2 linked regions of the Homo sapiens genome follow. Each later gene encodes a partner of the first gene's protein in a complex. Each region holds a gene or a part of one and is shown on either strand. Other genes may lie near its edges.

Region 1 (7,000 bases):
TTTGTCATGTGTAAGTTACATGATCTTACGACAATTCTTCATCTTGCTGAACTGTGGGTTTTTTGTTTGTTTTGTAAGCTGAAGAGGTGGACAAATTATCTTCTGACATTTTAGAAAGTGATTTTCACAAAATGAAAATAATGAAGTGGTGGATAAATCTCATTTATCCGAAAACTTTATAAATGTGGAATCCTCTGACCACATGCCAGAGGAGGTATGGTTTCCCCAGGCTTCCATTGGAATATGTGAGTTCAAAGGTTCCAGTAGAGTTTCCAGCCTTTTGTGCAAGCTCTGGGTTCCAGCCACTTCGAGGGGAAGCCCTGCCCTGCCCTCTGCTTCCCTTGGCTGTCCCATCCCCTCCAACTACTGTGGGGCCAATAACTCTTCCCCTTGAGCTGGTCTGCCACCCCTTATCCTCCTAACTGAGGGAGAGCAGCCTCTCTTCTCCTCCATTTAACCCATTTAGGGTGCAATTTTTTTTAAGAGATAGGGTCTTGCTTTGTTGCCCAGGCTGGTCTCAAACTGCTGGTCTCAAGTGATTATCCCTCCTTGGCCTCCCAAAGTGCTGGGATTACAGGTATGGGCCACTGTGCCCAGTAGGGAGTGACTTTTGTATAGGTAGTTTCTAGAAAACACAGATGGTAGCAAACATGTAAGTCTCCCAAAGAGAAAGCAAATCCTGGAATCACCCCAAACAGAGTTGATCTAAGGTCTCTCCATGCAGGGGTATGGCCTCTGCCTGGTCCCCTTTCTTTTACTCACTCTAGGCAGCTTTGCTCTCTGGAGCAGGGAGGAACTGCTCAGTGGCTAGTTGTCCCTCCACCATGTCTGAAGCCCCCTGCTCAGCGCCCCAGTGGCATCTCCCTCAACATGGTTCCAGGGGCCTCCAGCAATTCTGGGGTGGACTCTCCCACCAAAGTGAAGGCTCCCCAAATAAACACCATGCTCCCAGCCCCCCAGGCACACATTCCTGGTCCCTGCATATCCACTCCTCCTGCCCAGGTGGAGCCAGCTTTTTGGGTGGGCACAGCCCATTGTCAGCTGCCGTTGACCTCGTCAACAAGGCCGACTGAGTTACCTGTGGCTACTCTCATCGGCCCATCGCCAGCCTAAGGACAAAGGGTAAGGCCTGGGAAGATGTCCAAAGGCATGTATGGATAACAGAGATAGAGGCCAGAGAACGCCCAGGGGCAGGCAGGACATCAGAAGGCCATCATGTCCACCTTCTCAGCTTACAGATAAGAAAACCAAAGTGCAGGCAGATTAAGGGATTTTTCTGAAAGTCATTCCCAGAATTAATTAGTGAGAGAGCTGGAGCCAGACCTATGCCTCCCTTACTAATACGTTCATCACATGCCCAAGAGGATGCTGCTTCCAGAATCTCCAGAAAAAAGACCACGATACCCCCGAGAACTCATCCCGGATGCAGTACAACTGATATTGTGCCTCCTCCCTGGGTTCCAGTTTCCTTATATAGAAAAGTGATCTGCCGGGCACAGTGGCTCACACCTGTAATCCCAGCACTTTGGGAGGCCGAGGTGGGTGGATCACGAGGTCAGGAGTTTGAGACCAGCGTGGCCAACGTAGTGAAACCCTGTCTCTACTAAAAATACAAAAATTAGCTGGGCATGGTGGCGCGTGCCTGTACTCCCAGCTACTCGGGAGGCTGAGGCAGGAGAATCGCAGAATCGCTTGAACCCGAGAGGCGGAGGTTGCGGTGAGTCAAGATCGCGCCACTGCACTCCAGCCTGGGCAACAGAGCGAAACTCCATAAAAGGAAGGAAGGAAGGAAGGAAGGAAGGAAGGAAGGAAGGAAGGAAGGAAGGAAGGAAGGAAGGAAGGAAGGGAGAGAGAAAAGTGATGTACGGGAGGGATGGTCTGTTGGGTTCCTCTCAGCTCCAACATGTAAGGTTTCTGTGACCCTCTCCCTTGCAGCCAACACCATGTTCCCAGAAAGGGGTTCTAAGTCCTGGGGCTTCAAGTATAGCCTGGGGTCCCTGCTGGGTCAGTGCCCACCCTGAGGGTGTGTGCGTGCCCTGGGCTGCCCCAGAGCATAGGCCTGAGCCCTGTGGGTCTAAACCATCTCTGTCCGTCCCTCAACCTCAGTGTGCTCCTTATTCGTTGTCTCTTTCCTCCACAGTGTGTCTCTCTTTCCCCATCTTTGTCCCCTGTGCTCTGCCTGGACCTCTTGGGGGCTGCCAGCGAAGGTCTTCTCACCATCACCGTGGCTGACTGCTCCAGCTCTGTGAGGATCCAGCCGGCCTGCTCCAGGCCCCGCCCCTCCACCTGGCACCGCAGCAGCACGTCGTCCCCCACATCCACCGAGGCATTGGGCACCTGGACCTTCAGCGTGGGCACACCTGGCCACCCAGGACGCCCGAGGGCCAAGGGGTGTTAGAGCTGGGAGTGGCCCCAGAACTCTACTGCGGGGCTGCTCCTTCCCCCACCCTCCTCAATGACCTGGAGCCCAGGCGATGTCACCCCAGGCAGTTTCCCCCAGCCTTTGCCAGTGCCCATTCCCCAGGCCTTTTCAGTGCTTGCTCAGTGCCCTCTCCCTCAGGCAGGTAGGTCTCTTCCCCAGCCCCCTTACACCACCTCCCTCACCCGGCACCTACCACAGCTGGCATTGGGCATGTGGGCCAGGGGCCCTTGCCCATGACACTGCAGCTTCTGTTCAGGCACTCCGCCCAGTCCCTCCTCCTCCCAGCGCTGTAGCCAGCGCAGGGCACAAGAACAGTGCAGAGGGTTCCCCGACAGGACCCTGGGGGGCATGGGGGACACCAACAGAGTCAAGGAAAGGGCCTGAGGGATCACAGGGGATAAGAGGGAGCAGTTAGGCAGCAGGGAGGACCGTCTACAGGTGAAAGGGAGGACACAGAGGTCTTTCTCTCTGACTCCAGTAACAGGATGTTATTCAAAGAAATAGGCCATTGGGAGGCCGAGGCGGGCGGATCACAAGGTCAGAAGATCGAGACCATCCTGGCTAACACAGTGAAACCCCGTCTCTACTAAAAATGCAAAAACTTAGCCAGGCATGGTGGCGGGCACCTGTAGTCCCACCTACTCAGGAGGCTGAGGCAGGAGAATGGCGTGAACCCAGGAGGCGGAGCTTGCAGTGAGCCGAGATGAGATTGTGCCACTGCACTCCAGCCTGGGTGACAGAGCGAGACTCCGTCTCATAAAAAAAAAAAAAGAAAAGAAAAGAAAAGAAAGAAAGAAAAGAAAAGAAATAAGCCAGGCGCTGTGACTCACACCTGTTATCCCGGCACTTTGGGAGGCCGAGGCGGAGGATGGCTTGAGCCCAGGAGTTCAAGATCAGCCTGGGCAACATGGCAAAACCCCAACTCTACAAAAAGAAAAAATAACGTAAAAATGAAAGAAATCTAATGCAGAAAGTGGAAGACAAGACAGCTGACGTCTGAGGGATGCATGGGGCTCCCTCACCCCAGGCTCCCCAGGATGAGAAACCAGGCAAGGGCTCTCAGCATGGTGACAAGGAGGGAAGGGCACAGCCCCCCAGAGTGACCCAGAGGCTTTAAGTGCCCACCAGGTACACATGGACCCCTGCTGCCCCACTCACCCCTGTGCAGGGTGCCCTGGGAATGTGGGCAGATGTGCCTTGGACACACAGTGGGCCTGTAATCTGCTCAGCCAGGCCCAGCACACACACAGTCATCCAGGCCAGCTCCTCAGGGCAGTAGCCCCCTTAACGGGTAGTCCTGCAGCCCCTGCTTTGATGGGGGTTTCACTGGCATGCACATAGTCCCCAAAGAGACCCCCCAGCAGTGTCACACAGACACAGTGACCCAATGTCATCCAACAGACCCAAGTGCACACAGGCACACACACACTTGGTGCTCTTGCCCCTGGAAGCGCCCCCACTCACAGTTCCTGTAAGGAGAGGCCCTGCACAGTTTTCCAGGAGAGAGACTCCAGAGCGTTGAAGGAGAGATTCCTGCGGGCGTGGAGACACAGCAAGACAGACCCCTTGAGTGACCCGACCTCACTCTGACCAGAATGAGGGAGGGGAGGAGCCAAGAAAGAAGTTGACATCTGGCTCCCCCGCCCCGGCCTAGGCAACCAGAACCAGCCCTGGAAGGCAGTGTGTGTAGATGGTGGGGTGGGGGGTGGGGGGACTTTCTGAGTCCCACTCCTTTCCCTGGGACAACAAGGGTTAACCCCACTTAACCCCCTCTCCAGACCCCAGGGAGGGGGATCTGAGGGAACAGCCGCTCCTCCCTCCCCCACTGCTTTGGCCCCAGCTGGCAAAGTGCTGAGGCCACAGCTGGGGGAAGGGGTCCATCTGTGCTCCCCTCCCTACAGAGCCCAGGACGGGGCCAGAGGAAGAGGGGGAGGGTTGAGGCTGCCACTCCCTTGCCCCTACCTGACCACAAGGAACTCCACGCACTTCCTCAGCTCCCCTCCTCCTCCTCCTTCCGGGCCCTCCTCAGGGACTAAAAGGTCAGGCAGGAAAGGACCCACACCCCCACACCCCCAGCCCCCTCGTTGTATGGATGGAAAAAGTGAGCCCAGCAGGGGCCCGGCTCCAGGCCACACAGGAAAATGATGTAGGAGCCCCAGTGCCCTGTGCCCTGTGCCAGGCTGCCGCTGCTGGGACCCTCTGCCTCTGAGGGGCCTATCCTGACCCCTCTTCTTTCCTAGCCAACCTAGAATTTGTGGTGGCTGGGTGGGAGAAGTACCACCACATAGGGACCAAAGACACAACCCACTCTAGAGCCAGCTAGAGCAGGTGTAAGTTCTATCCTGCCACTTACAGCTGTGTGACCTCAGTCCAGAAACTCAACCTCTCTGATTCTCAGAATTCTCATCTATGAAATGGGGACAAGAACACTCTCTCTCTCACCAGGTTGATTGTGAAGATTCATTGACATAAGTATCGTGAAGTGTCATTGAGCACGTTTTTAACTGAAGCCCCGGTGCATAGACGGTGATATGACATCACTTTATTTTGCTTTGTTAAATTGCTGGACACAGCAGAGTTTAGAGGACCCTGCATAACTCCATGAGTGTCAGCCCCACCATCCTTCCCATCTCTCTGCCTGCTCATATTGGGGGACAGGGGAGCTGAACTCCTGCCCTCAGAAGGCCAGGGAGGGGCTGCCAGGGACTCTGATAGTCTCTCCTGCCCATCCCATGACCCTCTCTGTCCTACAGCAGGGGTCCCCAATTCCCAGGCCACAGATGGGTAATAGTGCCACTATTCTCCAGCCTGAGCAACAGAGGGAGACCCTGACTCTTAAAAAATAAATTAAAGAAAAAGAGAAGCACAGCAAGGAAGAGGGGCTATAAACAGGGCAAATATGTGGTCTCTTAGGAACCGGGCCACACAGCAGGAGGTGAGCAGCGGTGAGTGAGCATTACCGCCTGAGCTCCGCCTCCTGTCATATCAATGGCAGCATTAGATTCTGTGAACTACTGCGCACGTGAGGGATCTAGGTTGTGTGCTCCTTTTGAGAATCTAACTAATGCCTCATAATCTGAGGTGGAACAGTTTCGTCCTGAAATCATCCTCTCCTCCCGCACCATCCGTGGTAAAATTGTCTTCCATGAAACCAGTCTCTGGTGCCAAAAAAGTTGGGGTCCACTGCTCTACAGGAGGGATAGTTATGACTCCCAGGAATGAGGAGGGTGACAAGTGGCAGACCTAACACCCCAGCTCCCAGGATGTCCTAGGGGCCAAGTCAATGAGTCCCTGGGAAATGGAGTCCCAGCCAGAACCCAGGAGTCCTGCTCCTGCCGCTTGCTCCCTTTGCACTGGTGTGTATCTGAGCCCTGGGAAGAAAGATAGGGCAGGCACCTATGAGAAGTGTCCTTGCAGCATGGACCATGGAAGTGAGATGGCAAGGAGGACCTCTAGCTGTCAGGGGCGAGAGCATGCCATCCCTGAGGGAGATGGGAGGAAGCCCCAGGAGAATGGTGAGGTGACTTCCCTGACCAGGCTTGGGCCCTCCTCGCAATCATTCCCCGGGGACAGCCAAGCCCATTAGCAGCCCAAGTCTGGGTGTCCTCCCCAACTCCCACTGCCCAGCACTGGCCACACTCACAGGCGACTGAGCCGAGGAGTGAAATGGAAGGCATCTGGCGCCACGAAACGGAGACCACTCTTCACGATGGTGCTGGGGAGGGGTGCAGGAGGATCAGTCCCCAGGTCTCAGCTACTCTGGGCCCCTGGCCCTCCCTGCCCATCCCAGCCTCCCAGTCCCCTGTGCTGAACCCCTACCCCTCCTCAGGCCCCTCATTGTTTCCTCAACTACTCTAGACCCCTCAAAGCCCTGAGCTTCCTGACTTCTCCCAGTCCCTCAGTGCTCAGCCTCTCAGGTCCTCCCAGGCCCTCGGATGCTTGAGCCCTCCCTGACCTTCTGGTCTCCCCCAGGCCCATGCTGAGCTCCACACCCACAGTCCCCGTTTCCCTCACAGGTTTCTCAGCTCCCCCAGGCCCCTCAGATCACGGAGCTCCAGATGCTGCAGATGCTGCTGGTTCTCGATGTAGCTGTGGGGAGAGCGGATGGGAGTCACAGGGCTCAGGCCCACACTTGAGTTCCCATGCCCACCCACTTACTCCCTCACAATACACATGCACATGCCACATGCACACGCATATGCACCTGTTCAGACCTGCATACACACTTACACAGGCGTGCACACACAAATGCATACATGTGCACAGAGACGCACCTCAAGTCACACATGCACATGTGTGTGCATGAACACACAAGCGCACATACATATGGATCCCCACACCCTCACACATATGCACATTCTCACATACCTCTTGCACACATGCACACACCTAGGTATGCACATGCGCACACACAGAGGCATAAGCATCTGCACAGATGACGCCATGCACCTGCACATGTGCCTGCAGGAACACGCTCACCCATGGACACACAGAAACAAAGCTCACGTCCATCTCTCACGTGCACACACACAAGTCCATTCTCAGATTGGTGTTCTCCTTTTATATCAGGCATCCCTG
Region 2 (16,245 bases), about 42 Mb from region 1:
TGATGGGCTGTGGACTCGGTGACTTCACTCCAAGCAATGTGCACGCTAATTGAGAAAACATGTTCCTGTGATGGCCTCATGCAAAAATCCAGATTTACGAATTTTTTTTATTCCTAAGAATTCCTTAAATATTTGCCGTGCGTGTCTATACAGCCTCCTGGAGTACTTCTCCTTACTGAGTAGGGTTGTGATTTCTGCTGTGGCCCAGGTCAGGCTTTTAAAGGGTGGGATTCTGACAAAGGGCAACTGGGCAAGCAGCCACAGGCCTCGGGGAGAAGCAAGAAGAGGGCAGCAGAGGAGAAAAATAACCCAGACCTCCTGTGCTTTTCCTGGGGCAGAAAAAGCAATTCAAAATCCTTGAAAAGCAATTGTCTGCAATGTCAATGAGGGGGTCCACATCGGGAAGGGGCCTCAGCTTACTGGGCATTGGCTATATTCCAGACTCTGAGGTAAGAACTTTCCAGCACTCTCTCCTTTCCCCTTCACAATTGCCCTCAAAAATCAGTTGGCATCATGATTCCCTTTTACAGATGAAGAAACTGAGGCTTACAGGGGTTAAGTAATGTGCTCACAGAGCTAATGAGAAGTGAACTTGGACCTAAATCCAGTTCTATCTGTGTGCCAGGACTCCTGTAAAATCCTACCTGCCTATGGGACAGCCCCTCACTGCCCTCCGAGGAGCCTCCCTGAAAGCCTTCTTGACATCCAGACCTGTCCCTCTTGGAGGTCATATATTCACAGAATTAGTACTTCCACTAGTTCCAGTTTTGATACTGCTTGCAATTGCTCCATGTGTTAATTCACATAAGAAGATTAAAAAGCCTGCAGACAAATTTTGTTTGGTCTGTACCCATGTGTGGAAAGTGAAGAAATTTCAGAGTTTTGGCTTTTCAGTCTCAAAGTTTTGGCTTTTCTTGAAAAGTTCTTGAAGAGATCTGTATTGGACCTATAATCCTTTACAGCAATGGTTGGCCTGTCCCTTAACAATGAGGCATAGCCTCTCTAGTTTTTCACAGCCCCAGCAATCTCTGGCCTCAGCTCATTTATATTCTCTCATGAGCCACTAAGCCTTTTAGTTATGACTCCTGAGCAAGCTCCTTGGGGCAGGATCATGATTTATATTTATTTTGAGTCCCCAGAGTGCCCAGTGTCCCAGGTAGCATATTAATAAGGATGCTAATTGAGAGAAGAAAATCTATCCAGTAGCCTCATACATGGTGGGCCCCCTCCCCTGTGGGGCGAGGACAATCTTCCCCTTTAACCACAGGTTCTATGTAATTCAGCAACAGCTGCTTAACCCTTGGCTCTTGGTCTGGGAGAGCAGAAATGCCCCACTGCCATAGCAAAATTCACTTTCTCTTTCTTTTCTTGTAAACTTGAAGAATTCCTAAGACATTTAAAATCCTAAAGACACAGAGGAGTTGTTACGTGGAGTAAGGAAGCAAAACATTCTTAAAGCTGCAAGCAAACATGGTCATTCTCAAGAAATGCCTTATTTAGAGAGCATTGCATAACATTTCTGAAATAAGAGTCTGAGGAGAAGTTTGCCTCTGAAAGAAAATTACAGGAGAACCTCCGTGAGTCTTCTCTTACCCAGACATTACAAGGCGAAGATAAATCGCAAGATGAAATGTTTGGTTAAAATTCTATCAAAATGAGAATGTTAACTACAGAAGGTCAAAATATCAGTGAGTAAATTCCTAGAGAAGTCTTCAATGCAACCAAAAAGATTTCTCCTCCCAAAACAGAAAAGCTATATATGCACAGATACATTAAAAACATACAAAAAAGATGTTATCCTACCTGAAATTAAAAAAAAACAACTATGAAGTGGGGGCTCCCCTCAGATCAGCCCTTCCAAGGGAGAACGTGAGGGGAGGAAGCTCATGTTCGTTGGTGCCCCCCTCATGCCAGGCCTGTGCTGCTGTTTTGCCTATGCCTTCCCACTTAATGTGCACAACAGCCAGATGACAGCATAGCTACTACTAATATCTTTGTCTTACAGATGAGAAAACTTAGGGACAGGAGAGGCCCTCCTATGTCTCCACTTTCCTGGAGTACCCCGTCCTTCCCCCTGCTTATCTAGTCCAGCACCTCTCAGGCAGCTAGAAACAGTGTGACTTCTTTTTCTGAAAGTGTTCTCCATAATCCAAAGGGAGCCTGTCCCACTTGGCATCACTCATACACAATGGGGGTTCAATACATATCCATAGTGATGAGGCAGTACCTCAATCGTTGACCTCTCAGCCAGGTCTGCTCAGATCCAAAAATGGGTTGGCATTTCACTAGACTGAGCAAGTGAGACATGCAAGTCACTCCATTACTAATGAGGGTTGTAATCCATCTGTAATGATGAAGAACTGAAGTCAGGACAGTCTCCCCCACCCCCTAACCTGGGCAAGGGCTGAGCTCTTGAGACCATCCTCCCTGGGCTCACTTAGCAACTGCACACAGAGGGGAGGTGACCTATACCACCAACTCTGACTACTGAAGGAGCAGCCAAAGGAAATGGGAAAATCAGCCCATCTGTACTGACAACAAATACTTCGTGGTTATTGGGAAACTGTTCCTGTAGTAGTGGATTGAAATTGCCCAATGTGGAAGGGCTTCTGTGTGAAACTTGGGTGGTTCATTCCCACTGATTTCATAGCCAGCTTCTTTCATTCGCAGGGCTCTCCACCTGCAGAAGCCACCACAGGCGGTGCCAAAAGTGCCAAAACATCTCAATCTGCTTAGCCCAGTGGTGGATTTTCAGGGAAATCCTGACTGTCTGACTCTGACTAATAGTACTACTAAAAAAAAAAAAAAAAAAAAAAAGACTTCCCGCACGTGAATGCGTTGGCTACAGTCTTAGGCAATTCAAAAGCATTGTTGCTAGTTCCACCTGACAGATTTCATCATCAGATCAACCTCATTTGGGGAGGGAGCTCCTTAAGACTTTCTTTCTTTCTCTTTCTTTCTTTCTTTCTTTCTTTCTTTCTTTCTTTCTTTCTTTCTTTCTTTCTTTCTTTTCTTTCTTTCCTTCTTTCTTTCTTTCTTCCTTCCTCCCTCCCCCCTCTCTCTCTTTCTTCATTCCTTCCTTTCTTTTCTTTCTTTCTTTCTCTTTTTCTTTCTTTCTCTCTTCTCTCTCTCTTTCTTTTCTTTTCTTTCTTTTTTTTCCCTCATTTGAAATCAGCGCCAAGCTCTGCAGTTCCTTTTCACTCCTACTTGTAATGAGTTGGGCATGAGTAGAAAGCATGTGTTCCTATAATACCCTCCTACCCTCTGAAGACATTATTCATTTTAACCCTAGGTACTATAAATAAACAAATAGTTCTATTTTCTGTCCCCCAATGAGACCTTGAAGCAGAGGTGAGAATAATGAGCTATTCTACTTGAGAATAAACCCAGTGCCACAAGCACCATCCCTCGAGTGTAGTGTTGCTAGCCTACTTTTTTTCAAGGAAATGTCACGTTATCAATTCTCATTTATTTTCACAGCTTGGGCACAGTTGTATTAATTCGATGTCAATGTGCACTCATGTTGTATTAAGTGCGGTCAGTGTTGGGGGCTTCTGCTTCAGGGAAGGAACCTCCTGATGCCAGAGTGTGATCCACTTAGCAAAGGAGGGAAGGATTTCCTCCCAGTGCTGCAGACTCCACAGGCATGCAGTCTGCCTGTGTTTTTAATAACATATGGCAGAGTAGGAAGCTGCCATGCTCTAATAGCACCTGTCCCTTCACCTTACTCTTTCTGATTTTCTTTTCCCATGGGTCATTTGTAGTCCACTTCACTCACAAAAGGCAAAGGATGACACTTGGTGGGACTACAGCACTGAGGTCCCTGCCGATGGTGGCCTAGAGTCTGATTTGCTGGCTCTTGGAGGATGAAGCCCAGGAATTGACTTCTGGAGCCCCAGTTTGATGATTAACCACAGAAACCCCAACAATAGGGCCCTTATTGGTAATTTCCAAAAGACTTCTCAACTGGGAGCAGCATTATCTTTGAATACACTTAGCCCTTTATGAGGGGCATTTGAGGTTGTCACTATGACTTCTGACATTTAGGAGGTGAGGCAGGAATACTAAACTATCTGCACTGTGCAGATTGGTCACACTTAACCAAGAATTGTCCCAAAATGCTGACAGCTCCATTCAGAAACAATATAAATCCAATATACTTGCCTAATGAGTTGGGAAAGTGAGGCCTGAGAAGCTTAGCGACTTGCTCAAGGTCACAAAGCTACTTCCCTTCCTTTCTCACAAGTGAGGAAACTGTAACAGGAAGTTTACCCAAAATATAGGAGAAGAATATCAAGGGATCATCCTAACATTTTAATCTGATTCCTACTGTGTCCTAGTCTGAGGCCTCAAAAGCATGTAAAGTAGCCCAGAGAGGAGCAATGAAAACATCACGAACCACCAGAAAGTCTTCTCCATTGCATGTTTTCATTCTTCTGGTCTTCACTAAACTTTGTGGCTGAAGGTTTATTCTCCTCGGCTCAAATAGTGACGTTTCTATGCTTCTGCACAGCCTAATAAAAGACCGAGGACCCCAAAGCCTCAGTTTCTCCATTCACATATCAGCCTCAGGATCATCCTGGCCTTACTGCTATTTGGAGTTAGGATCTTAACTATTTTCCCACTGTTATCAAGCGATGTCTCATGGGAATGGATTGGGGAAGGGTCTTTCATCCTCATTTATTTACCCAATGCCAGTGTACACTGTTTTCTCAAAATGGTCCACCACAGAAGTGATTTCTCAGAACTGGCTAAGCCTGAGAGCTGATGGTTTGTGAGATCAGCTAGTGAAAGAAACACACAGGAACTCTTTCTGTGTCACAGAAAGGTGTTTTCTGGGAGCATGGGTTGTTTGCACACAGATATCCAGAGATTTTATGCAAGCCGTCAGCAAACCTTCCACTGCTTCCTGAGATCAGAGAATTTGCTGCCAGCAAAGGTCTCTTAAGGCTTGCTCTAGACTCTGAAGTCAGTGAAAGTTCTTACTTGGAAAAGGTAAATGGCTGGGCCTCTGCTCCCAGGTCTGGCACTGACATCTGCTTGGGGATCTGGGCCTTGGCCCTACTCCATGCCCAGTAGAGAAGAGCAGTGGCTGAATCTCTGTGTAGTTTCCCTGCTGCTCTGATGCAGGGTACTGCAGTAAAGCACTCCATCAATGAGCAGCAGGAGTGCTCAGCACTCTTTAAAAAGTAAAGTTGTGTGATTTTTTTCATCAGTTTATTCTCGGTAATGATGAGAAACTTCCCTCGGGCTCCAGCCCTGCCCTGCCCTACCCTACTCTCCCTGCTGATGTCGGCAACCAGGGCCCCCTTCTTGTCCAAGGCACAGATTTCTCCCTGAAAGAGAATGAGAGTGTGAAGCCTCATTCCTTGCTCCCACTGGCCCTTGGGGCAGGAGAGTTGTGGGGTGGGCAATAGGAGAAGGCAAGAACCTCATTCCTTGGTACAGGTTAAAAGTAGGGAAAGAGTCACCAATACCGGGATGACTGCCCTGAGTGGGCCCAGTTCATTTCTCTGGTGGGCCTGGGCTGCTGTTGGAAATGCAGTGGTGCCAGCAGCTGGTTCTAAAATCCTCTGAGGTGCTCCTATACTTCTGTCAAATTAGTGTTCTCATGCCCCAGTGATCTTGGCTTCCCATTTTTGGTGCTTCCTTTTTCCCTTCACCTGCATAAAGATGTTGGGGAAAGAGTGGGGTAGGAGTTTGGCAACATGTGGCATTAACCCTATCCCCCTTCAACAAGAGGAATGTTCACTTTCTGTGTGAGTCAATTCCAGCTAGGCCAGTCTCAGCCCCCAGACCCGCCTGTCTCCTCTGACCCTCTGGAAACACTGCCCATCATGAATTGACATTTGGGTTGCTCAGGTTGACGTATGACTTATTCAACAAAAGAGACCCATCAGGTTTGATACAGCCTTTCTTCTTTCTTCTGTGACTCTGCAGAGGGAGAAAGTTTCAGACATTCAGGAGGAAACTGTAAACACAGGATAAGAAGGGCTGGCAGGGGCCAATGGCTGCTGCCCTTCTGCACTGCCTCGAGAAGGGGAAAGATTCCCTTCCAGCAGACTTAACTGACGGCTTCAAGAGTTTGAGGACCCTGGAGAGAAGTTACTGATGGGGTCTCCACTGTCATTTCTGCATTTGCAGAGTGCAGCTGGCTGTGCATGGATTGGGGAGGAGGGGACTGGCACTGGCAGTGGGTGTGCCCAGAGGATGGAGCCAGAACAATTAATCAAGTGACTTTTCTACAGGATTTCCATTGGCCTTGGATGACAGATGGGGCAGAGGCACCCAGGAGAGCACTATTTTGGTTTCCAGCTGGGAACGTGCACTAAGTTTTCCTTAATACCCACAGCACCCAAAAGGCTTTGCTGTAATACACTTTAATGCATGAAACACTCATAAATTATCCTTCGAACTGTTACAACTTCCAACCTGGAACAACTTGGAAAAACCAGCCTAGCAAGCAGGCTCTTTTTTAATCTCTCAAATCACAAGAGAAGAAAAAGTTCAAGCACGAAACACCTTCCTTAAGAATCTCGAAATTTTTTTTGTTTTGTTTTTGTTTTTTTTTTTTTTTTTTTTTTTTTTTTTTTTTTTTTTAGAAGGAGGTTTGTAATTAGAGGGAGCTAAGCTGCTTGTTTCTGCTGGCTCAAAGTTGCAGCTCCCTGACCCCTGAGTCCTCTCTCCCTCCCCTAGATCCTCCTCGCCTGAACTCAAGGCGCTCCCCGCCCTAACCTTCCACGCCCGCTTCTCCCACACCTGGCAGCAGACAGCTGGAGATGAAGCGTGTGACCCAAGTGGCAGGGCTGAACCTTGGCGACCTCTACCTGAGGTTGTCCAACGCGGCTCCGTGGAGGGCCCCGGTACGCCGGACGGACCCCGGCGTTGGCTCGCAGACTTCCTGCGTTAACCCCCGGGGCCCTCAGTCACGACTCCCAGCCCTTCCGAGACGCGCTGAGGGAACTGCCCCAGGTCTAGCGCGCCCCGTTCCGCTCCTCCCCCTACCTGGGGGCCGCGCAGCACTTTCCCTACTCGGCGCTCACCTCAGCCAGCGCGCTCTGCGCTCCCCCCGCGGTGCTGGCCGCCACTCCTCCCGCCCTGGCGCGCCAGCTGCCGGCGCATCCCTCTCCGCGCCCATTCGCTCTCCCTCACTTGCGCGTTATCCACTTCTAGCCCTCGAGCTAGACCCTGGCATGGCCGTGGGCTTCTGCAGGCGCCAGGGCTGCTCCCTGGACTGCAGGCCATCCTGGGACTAGGGACTCCACGACCAGAACTAACGCTGTTCCCTCGGTCCGACTCGTCCTCCCGCGAGGGTCCCGCGCCCCCACACCCACTCGGGACATTTCTCAGGGCTGCTCTTCGGCCTGCGGGAGCCTCGGGGGTAACCAGAGAGCTCGCCAGACCGGTATCCTTGCAAACTCTCCCGCGAAGCCCAGCCACCCCTGCCCGCGCCCGCGCTGCGCCCCTCTCGGGATCGGCTCGGGGCAGCCTGACTCACCGCTGCGCTCCCCTCCGGCTCCCAGCGCTCTCTGCTGTGCCGGAGCGCCGAGCTGCTCTCACACAGGCTTCTTGAATTCTTAGCCCCTCCTCCCGTACTCCTGAGTCACACGCTCCAAATCCTGGCCCCCATCCCTCCCCTCCCCACCACCAGCCCCGCACCTGCTGTGGCTGGGCTGTGGTGCCCGGCTGGAGGGGGTCCTGGGGACTACAGACGGATCGCTCCTGGAGGGCTGGCCAGACCCAGCCAGAGAAGGACTTTAAACCTTCAGAGGTCAAAGGGAAACCCACTGGGGTCTGAGGGGCCGCGCGCGCAAAGCCGGGAGGGGGAGTTTCTGGGGCACCGGCAGGGGTCGTTGGGCCGACTGGCTGGGGCTGGGCGGAGTTGCTCGCAGCTTCCCTCACCTCTCCGCCCTGCCCCCGCGCGTTGCCCTTCGCCAGTGCCTCCCTGGTCTGCCCGGCGTCGCCCTCGGTGCCCCAGGCATCGGCTGCTCCTTTTCTTCGGGGCGCCTTTCCTTATCCCAGGATAGGTGAGCACCCAGGGGGAGCTCCGCGAGGGGCAGGTGCCCAAGCTCCTCTGACAAGGGAAGGCGGCTGCAGAACCAGCTAGAAGGCCCCCAGGCCCGGCAAGTCCAGCATGGGGACAAGGGGCAGAGGACTTCAGGAGTCAGGAGCTAGAGCCGGGACCTTAACTTAAGGCCCTGGGTTCCAGGAACTTCCCGGAGTCCTTGGCCCCTCTGAAACTGTAGGCTGATTTGCGCGACTGTGTGCAATGCTAATATTCTTTTCTGAGCTGAAGGTCCGCAGCTTTCATCAGTTTTGCAAGGGGTCTGTGACCCCAGACTGATATAGCCAGCAAACCCTAGGCCCCCATGCCCCCCTCTCCACACTCCAGGCCCCACACAAATTCTTCCTGACCCTTCAAAATTTCTTGAGTTCCCTCGATTCAGCCTGACAGGAGAGCTTGCCTGACTTTCCCCTGCCCCTCTGCCAGGGCTGTTCCCACCCCAGCATAAAATGAGCAAGGGAGAAATACCCCTGAAGTCAAATTTGTCACCAAATGTGCATCATTAATTGTAGCATTCCAGGGGATTCGTAGCTCTTTGGAAATTTACAGCCCCACTCCCTCCCGTGTTGAGCTTGTCTGTGCCTTCGCTTCTTCCTATAGCAAAGGTGGGTTGGACCCCTACCCTGTATGGATGCCACAGAGGAGAAGTAGGTGTGAGGAGAGTAACAGGGAGGGAAGGTGGGGCACAGAATCTCCCTATTGCTGGTAACACCAGCCAGTGCAACTTAGCAGAAGGGCACCCTCCAGGGAACTGGGATTTAGTGAAGCAGATGATTCCTGTCCTAAGTCTGGGGGTGGTCATTTACCCTTAATGGATGGCACTTGAGCAAGATGAAGCCCTGACTAGGCATTTCCAACTCCCTTGATTCAGATTAGTCTTGAGGTCTTACTTCTTTCTATTTTCACGTTTGCTCCCATAAGAAAGTTCATTCCATTTACACATGCTCTGAGAAGGATGAAATAGGCAAAAAGCCCTGGAATTGGAAGTCAGCCTTAGCTTTGGTGTGACCTTGTTGTTTCCCAGCCTTAGGCTTGTCCACTTCTGACTTGTTCAGATACAGGCTGGTGTATGAACACACTTTGGAAGTGAGGGCAAGAGGCCAGGGAACACTGTGAATGGCCCTTTCTACAAAAGTAGTATCATAGTCGAGGTGATCCATTAGGAAATTTATCATCGTCAATTAAACAAAAGAATTTCCAGATAACAGGATGAATTCATCCATCAATCATGTCATGTATAAACTTGTTTGGAAAGCACTAGCCCCAAGCCTTACATAATAGCTGCCTGAGAATTTGGGTATGAAATTAAACTTTTAGAATAACAGAGAATTTGGTTGTTGAATGCAGAGCATTTGTATGTGTTCTTGTGGCATCATTCAGAAGGACAAAAGGATTTGGGACACTTGTGGTTCTTTTCCATGTGGTATGTAAGGGGGAAACTTTAAGTGATGTAAGCAGATTATAAGTTTGCTTATATGCTCCATCCTCACCCCCTAAATTGTTGGTCATATTCTTCTTGCACATGTTGATTTAATAAGAGCTCCTTTCTGCCCCTAACTACCTCTATTTCTGTCCCTGGACTTCAAGGATCTTGAGTAAATAAGAACATGTAAACAACAAACACAAAAATACTCCAAAGATTATTGATTGAGAGCCTACCATATGCCAGGCACTGTGTGCTGGCAGTGGTACCGGCTCTCAGAGAGCTTATGTTCTAGTGGGGGCTTGATTATTAGTCCCTGGCCATGTTTATCACAGTTTCCCTAGGTCCTAGCATAGGACCTGGCCTATAGTAGGTGCTCAGTTAATACTTGTTGAATCCAACAACGGTCAGAGTCATTTGTGACTGTCAGACAACCCACCAACACTGGATTGGTTTCCAGCAGGTTCCAGATCAGCCTGCCTTTGGCACAGAGACCACAGCCAGGTGCCTTTTCCCCTGCCTCTTCCACTTTCAAGAAGGTTCAAACAGAAATGTCCTTCTCTTGGGTCATTGAGAGAAGGACTTCTGGGCCTGGACCAGCTACATTCATAGGAATGAAAAACAGCTGAGAGGGCAGCGGCCAGAGGAATGGTGCAGACAAGCAGAGGATAAGAATGTTTTTCTGTACTAGATTTTCTCGAAAGAGCCTTTTATCCAGGGTATCAAAATAACCAGCAGCTGATGCATTTGCTGACTTGGAGGAGAGATTGTGGCGTGTACAGTAATTGTTGTTATTTCTGAAGATCTAGAAGGCTGCAGCCATTGAGTGCCTCATCAACAGCAACAGTCAGCTAGCACAAACCCCTGGCTTCTCCCTTGCTTCATTCCAGGAGGCCAGGACAAAGTGCATGTGCTATTTAAAACACCAGCAGGCTCAGCAGAGATCTGCCAGCAAGGATGGAATCACTGGATCTGCTAGTTCTTCATGTGAAACACAGAAATATTGTCCCAATTGCTGGAGGAAGTGATAGCTTCCGTTTAAAGACTTTTTTTTCCTCTTCCTTCTAATCAGAGTGAAGAAGAACTTCAGAAGAGGAAATGTTTCATAATGCTTAGTGAGATGACATGTTCACAGAATCACAGAAATGATCAATCCAGCCACCTTATTTATGGATGAAGAAACAAGGGCTCAGGAAGGACAAAGGCTCAGCCAAATACACGTGGCCAGTGTCCGGCTTTTTGACTTCTAAGCAAGCCTTCCTTTTACTACACTCCCTGAAAGAGGCTGGGAGAAAAACTGACCAATTCAGTCTACAGGAAAAAGCTGGTAAAGGAGCTAAAGTAGGCAAGGGTGCAGAGAGGGCCAGGGGTGCCCCCTTCTCCTCTGGGCTATCCCTGCCTACTCCTGTGGCCTGTTCCTGGCTTTTGCTGTTTCTCGCTGAGATCTCCAGTTCCTCCATCTCTACTAGTTCCCTCGCTTTTGCTTGTGAACATTCACTTGCCTTTTCTCTCTTAAAGAAACTGCTAGCCCAAACTCTGGATTTCTTAGCTTCCATTCACTACCAAATTCTTCAGCAAGGTAATCTATACCCATCATTTCCTTGGCACCCCCTCCCCGAAACTTTCTGCAACCAAGTTCCCATCTTCCTCCCCTACCTTTCCTTTCTCCCTACTAAACTGATAATTTTTTTTAAAGGTCGTTAGTTGCAAGAACACCACCAACACCAACACAATCTCAGCAGCATTTATCTAGTGCTTGCCTTATTTCAAGTACTGGGCAAGGCATTTTTCCTAGCCTTATTAATTGGTCCTATTGATTTGTAGATAAGATGAAACTCTGAGAGGTAAGTCACTTCCCAGGTCTCATAGCTAGCCAAACGGCTGAGTAGAGAATTGAACCCAATCCCTTGCTGTTAAATGCCACGCCTCCTCCTCCTTTCAGCCAAGCTCAGCTGACTTTGACAGTCCTAGTCCACTCTATTCATGACCTCCTTTGTCTACAACTTTCCTTTCAGAACTCCTGTGACCACACTATCCTGGCTTACTAGCCACCTCTCTGATTTCATCTGCCCTCTGCACTCATGGGCCTCCCACAACTCAGTCCTGGGGCTTTACATTCTCCTCCACTCTTGTTCTTCCAGGTGTTTTTTTCTACTAATTTTATAATTCCAAGCATGGTTTCAACTCTGGCCTCTCCTTTAATCACCAACACTTTGAGTGTTATGTGCGAAGCACTACCTAGGTTCTTGTTTCAGCGAATCTGCACAGGCCCTGGCGAGGACTGTGTTTCTGCCTCTCCTCTGACTCTCAGCCCCTCCATCCAAAGCCCTTGCTCTTAACTCAGCCAGGCAGCTGCCCCACAGATCCCATTCTTGAAAGGTCAGGAAATCCACGTGGGCCCAGGACAGTTCAGCTCTTTTCCTGCAGCCCAGGAAAGTCACCAGTTTGGAACTGGCAAGATTTAGCCCATCTGTCCTCTTAAGTGGTGTGTCCTTGGGAGAAAGATTGACCCTCCTTGAGCCGTAATAATAATAATTACTTTTCATTATATGGAGTGAATATGTTAAACAATTTTCAAGCACCTGCTACGTGCCAGCCCCATTCTAGGTGCTGGGGATTCAGCAAATGAACAAAACAGCCTATAAACACATAGAATTTTTTATTTTTAAATTTTTTAATAATTTCAACTTTTACTTTAGATTCAGGGGGCACATGTGCAGGTTTGTTACAGGGGTATATTGCCTGATGCTGAGACTTGGGATATGATTGATCTCATCACCTAGATAGTGAGCATAGTCCCAACAGTTAGTTTTTCAACCCTTGCCCCATTTCCTTCCTCCCCACTCTAGTAGTCCCCAGTAGATACATGGAATTTAAATTATATTAATTTGCGTCACCTATTTAATAAATGTGCATTATTTAATGTATATTATATGCCAGGCCCATAAAAGTCAGTTGTGATTTTGGTGAGTTGCAGGGCAGGTGAGTGAGACAGATGCAGACACAGTCAGTGCCAACCAAGTCAATGATCTCCTTAGGTGCAAGGAGAGTCAGGTGAGCCCTCTGGGGACTGGATCCTCTCCTCTGCTGTCCCGATTCAAACAGCTGTGAGCCTCCACCTTTTCAGGCTGGTCTGACTCCAGTCTCCACAGGAACTGGTCTCCACAAGAACCCCTGGTGACCCTGTGGCTTTCACTGGTGCTTTCTTCAGAGTCCCCTGAGGCTCTCTCACTCCTCTCCCACTGAGCCAAACCCTCAGTGTCCCTCACGAGCCTACAGCCAATTCAAGTGTGCCTCCATCTGGGTCCTCACTATACAACCCTCCCTGGCCCTGGAGTTGGTACATTCCTATTAGGGCCACCCAAGAGATACCTCTGGGGCAGGATTCCCCAGGGATCAAGTTTGCCTGCATAGCATCACAGCTGCTCTTTCCTGTCACATGGTATCATGTTGACAATTAAGGTTTTGTGGTGCTGAGGCAGGCAAGAACCCCACACTTTCATTTGTGATGCTCCTATGCAGGAGTCTGGGATAGATGGGCTCTGCCACATCCTGGGTAGATCTCTGTCCCTTCAGTGGTGACACTGAGCTCACTGCATTTATTAAAATCCTATCCTGGGGTAGAATCTGTGTTAGGTACAAGGAAACAAAGATCAAGAAGAAATGATTATTGCTATATAGGAACCTACTATCCAATGGGGCATCAGACACATAAACTGATAAGAAATCTGTAAGGGAGGATCTAGAAGCTGGAGAGATGGGAAATTCAACCAACTTAGAGCTTTGCCTTTGTTGTCATCCCATTGCATTTTGCATAAATTCCATATTCTTTGAAGAGACTTACGAGGCTCTGTGTCATCTGGCTCCTCCAGCCCCTTCATCTTCCTTTCTTGCTACTTTCTTTTCTTTGCTCTAGCCTCTGCCGTGGTGAATTTACTTCAGTTCATTTCACAAGCAGCACCAGCCCCACAGGTCCTATATGGTGTTTCCAGTGCTTCAAAAACTTTTAGCCTTCTCCCTACTCCTTCACCTGTCCATTTCCTCTTCCTCTGAAACTCAGCTCTGAGAATCTTCAATGACATTTCTAGTCAGGTGATTTCCCTGATCCTCCAAGTCAAGACTGAGTGCCCTTTCTAGGTGCTTCTCCAGCCCTCCATATTGCACAAAACACATGCTCAATAAATCATTTAAAATGAGATATTGCCCAAGATAAGCTTTGAAGCATGTGTAGGAGCCAGGAGAAGAATGCTGGGAAGGACATCATTTGAGACAGAAGGAACACTTTTAACCAAGGTGTGCAAGTGTGAGATGGTATGTTGCGTACGGGAAACTGCAGCTGATTCAGAACTGGTGGGGCATGACGTGGTAGGAGATACTGCTGGATCAGTCACTGGGAAGGTCGAGGAAGGCATGGATAATGAAGGGTGAAACCAAATGCAAAGAGACCACCTAGGGCCGGTAGTTATAGTCAGGGTGAACGGTGATGGCAGCAGCCTGATCCATGCATGGGGAGCTAAGCATGCAGAGGAGACATTCAAACAAAACTTAGCGTGTAAATTCATCAGGAAGTGGGGAATGGCTGGATGCAGGGGTAGGGTGAGAAAAGGGTCTCCTGGGTGCCCTTTGGATTCCTGATTTGCCTGAGCAGGTAAATGATGGTGCTGGCTATGGAGATGGAGCATCCAGAGGTGGGGCCTATGTAGTGGCCTTGGAAGCAGGGGTCTTCAATTTAGGATTTTGCTGGGCCCATGGAATACTCAAGGACATATGTGCAACATATGGAGTTTGGAGATCAGGAATGATGTCGAGGCTAGCTGTCTCTGCACACTGCACACAGGCTGAAGGCAACCAGTAGCATCATCTCAGAGTCTCCACTGAGAACTTACCTCCCCATCAAGCCACACTCTCACTGTCCACCATGTTGGCACCATACCAACTATGGGGCATCTCCCAGAGGCTAGAACCCAGGGAAACAGATCACTCGCTCCAGTGTTACCTGGTTCCCTCCTTCCTGTTTATTTCTATAATACTCACTCTCCACCTTGAGGTGCAGGCCAAAGTGTGAGAGCAATTGGGTACCCTAGGGGATGACCACCTTGCCTTTCCCATAAAACTCTATGATCAAGCTCTCCAAGCCTGGCTCTTTATAATCTGTGAGAGTTTAAGAAATTCAGAATCCCTTCCCCTTTTTTTCTTTCACAAGAATGACTGACTTTCAAAACCACTGTCTCGCTATGAAATGTCTTGCTAAAGATGTATATGGACATTTTCCCTTTGCATTCCAGCTGCAACAGTCCCAAGGGTACCCTGTGAAAATCATATGCCCCTGGCGGAATCGGGGGGGATCACACAACTGGGAAATGTGAAAGAGAATACCTATGCATTCCTTATCACATTTGTACAATAAATAACAATCTGCTATCCCCACTAAACTATAAAATTTTCAGGAACCTTAAACTCCATCATAATACCTGAAATATAATAGGTTTTCAACAAATGCATTTCATATGGATGAATAAATTAAGCTCAGAGGGTTTGAATAATCATGTTGAACAAAACTAGCAAATAGCTAACCTAGTCTGTATCTATATCACAGATTGGATATTTGTCCCCTCAAAATCTCATGTTGAAATTTGATCCCCAATGTTGGAGATGGGGCTTGGTGGGAGGTGTTTGAGTCAAGGGGACAATTCTTCATGGCTGGCCCTGTGCTGTCCTCACGGTAATGAGTGAAGCCTCACTATTAGTTTCCATGAGCTCTGATTATTTGAAAGAGTCTGGTACCACCCTCCCCTCTCTCTTGCATTTTTCCTATCCCCATGTGATGCCAATCCCCCTTCACCTTCCACCATGAGTGGAAGCTTCCTGAGGTCCTCACCAGAAGCAAATCCTAGTGCTGTGCTCCCTGTGCAGCTTTCAAAATCCTAAGCTGAATAAATGTCTTTTATTTATAAATTGCCCAGCCTTGGATATTCCTTTATAGCAATACAAATGGTCTAAGACAGTCTGCAAAGCTCATGCCCTCAGTACTATACCTTACAGACTAATAATTGGGAAAATTCTTAAAGAACCAAATCAATTTTTGTCAGCATGGTAGAAGCTAAGAAGACTGTCTTTGTCACTCAGATGTGCTGGCTGATTTAACTCCACCATGACCTTTAGCTGTGCCCCTTCAGCCATGCTCAGTTCAAAGCTGTACTACTGTTATGTAAGCAGCAGTTTTGGACAAGTAGGGGGTTCCCAGGTCCTCTTCAGGTACTGGAGATGTGCCTCCGTTGTGTGGAATTACAGGCTGAGCTGCTACAGAGCCAATGGGAAACATGCATCACCCCTTATTTGACAAGAGGCTTGCTTCGAGCAGGACTTCAACTTCTGCCAAATTCTGAGTCTGGCAAAAATTGCCTTGCTCTAGGGGACCTTAGGTCATCTTCAGGTCTCAATCCTACCCTCAGTAAATGGCCTAGAATACTTGCTGGGCTTGAGATGAAACCACTGGAGTCCACTGGTTCTTGCAGGAGTATTTGCATTTCAGTGGGCAGCAGAGGTAACTCAAAAGATGGAGGAGATAGTTTGTAAATGGAGTGAAGAAGATAATTGGGAGAATACAAGGTCAATGGGCAGGCCCTGAAATCATTTTGCTTAGGTTTTAAGATTGCTCACAGACAGACTGTATTGACTTCCATGAATAATGCTCTATCTCATTTCTGGGCCTTTGCAACATGCTCCTTCCTCTTCCTGGGACGCTTTCTCTGCTCTG

The links.
Region 2: the proteins of NTRK1 (region 1) and NGF are in contact, whole or in part, in a crystal structure (PDB 1WWW), measured with the Homo sapiens proteins. Residues at the interface, in NP_002520.2 of Homo sapiens: His291, Val294, Glu295, Met296, His297, Cys300, Pro302, Phe303, Ser304, Leu333, Glu334, His343, Gly344, Cys345, Arg347, Thr352, His353, Met379, Asp380, Pro382; in NP_001424474.1 of Homo sapiens: His125, Pro126, Ile127, Phe128, Arg130, Gly131, Glu132, Phe133, Ser134, Ser138, Ser140, Trp142, Tyr173, Phe175, Arg180.

Annotation. Positions count from the first base shown.
Region 1 is NC_000001.11:156,863,865-156,870,864, reverse strand, and holds part of NTRK1 (high affinity nerve growth factor receptor isoform 2 precursor), read right to left. Parts: intron 6,512-7,000; coding exon 6,437-6,511; intron 6,138-6,436; coding exon 6,066-6,137; intron 3,956-6,065; coding exon 3,887-3,955; intron 2,762-3,886; coding exon 2,616-2,761; intron 2,361-2,615; coding exon 2,218-2,360; intron 1-2,217. UniProt on the Homo sapiens protein: Receptor tyrosine kinase involved in the development and the maturation of the central and peripheral nervous systems through regulation of proliferation, differentiation and survival of sympathetic and nervous neurons.
Region 2 is NC_000001.11:115,330,706-115,346,950, forward strand, and holds the start of NGF (beta-nerve growth factor precursor), read right to left. Parts: upstream 7,545-16,245; 5' UTR 7,499-7,544; intron 1-7,498. UniProt on the Homo sapiens protein: Nerve growth factor is important for the development and maintenance of the sympathetic and sensory nervous systems.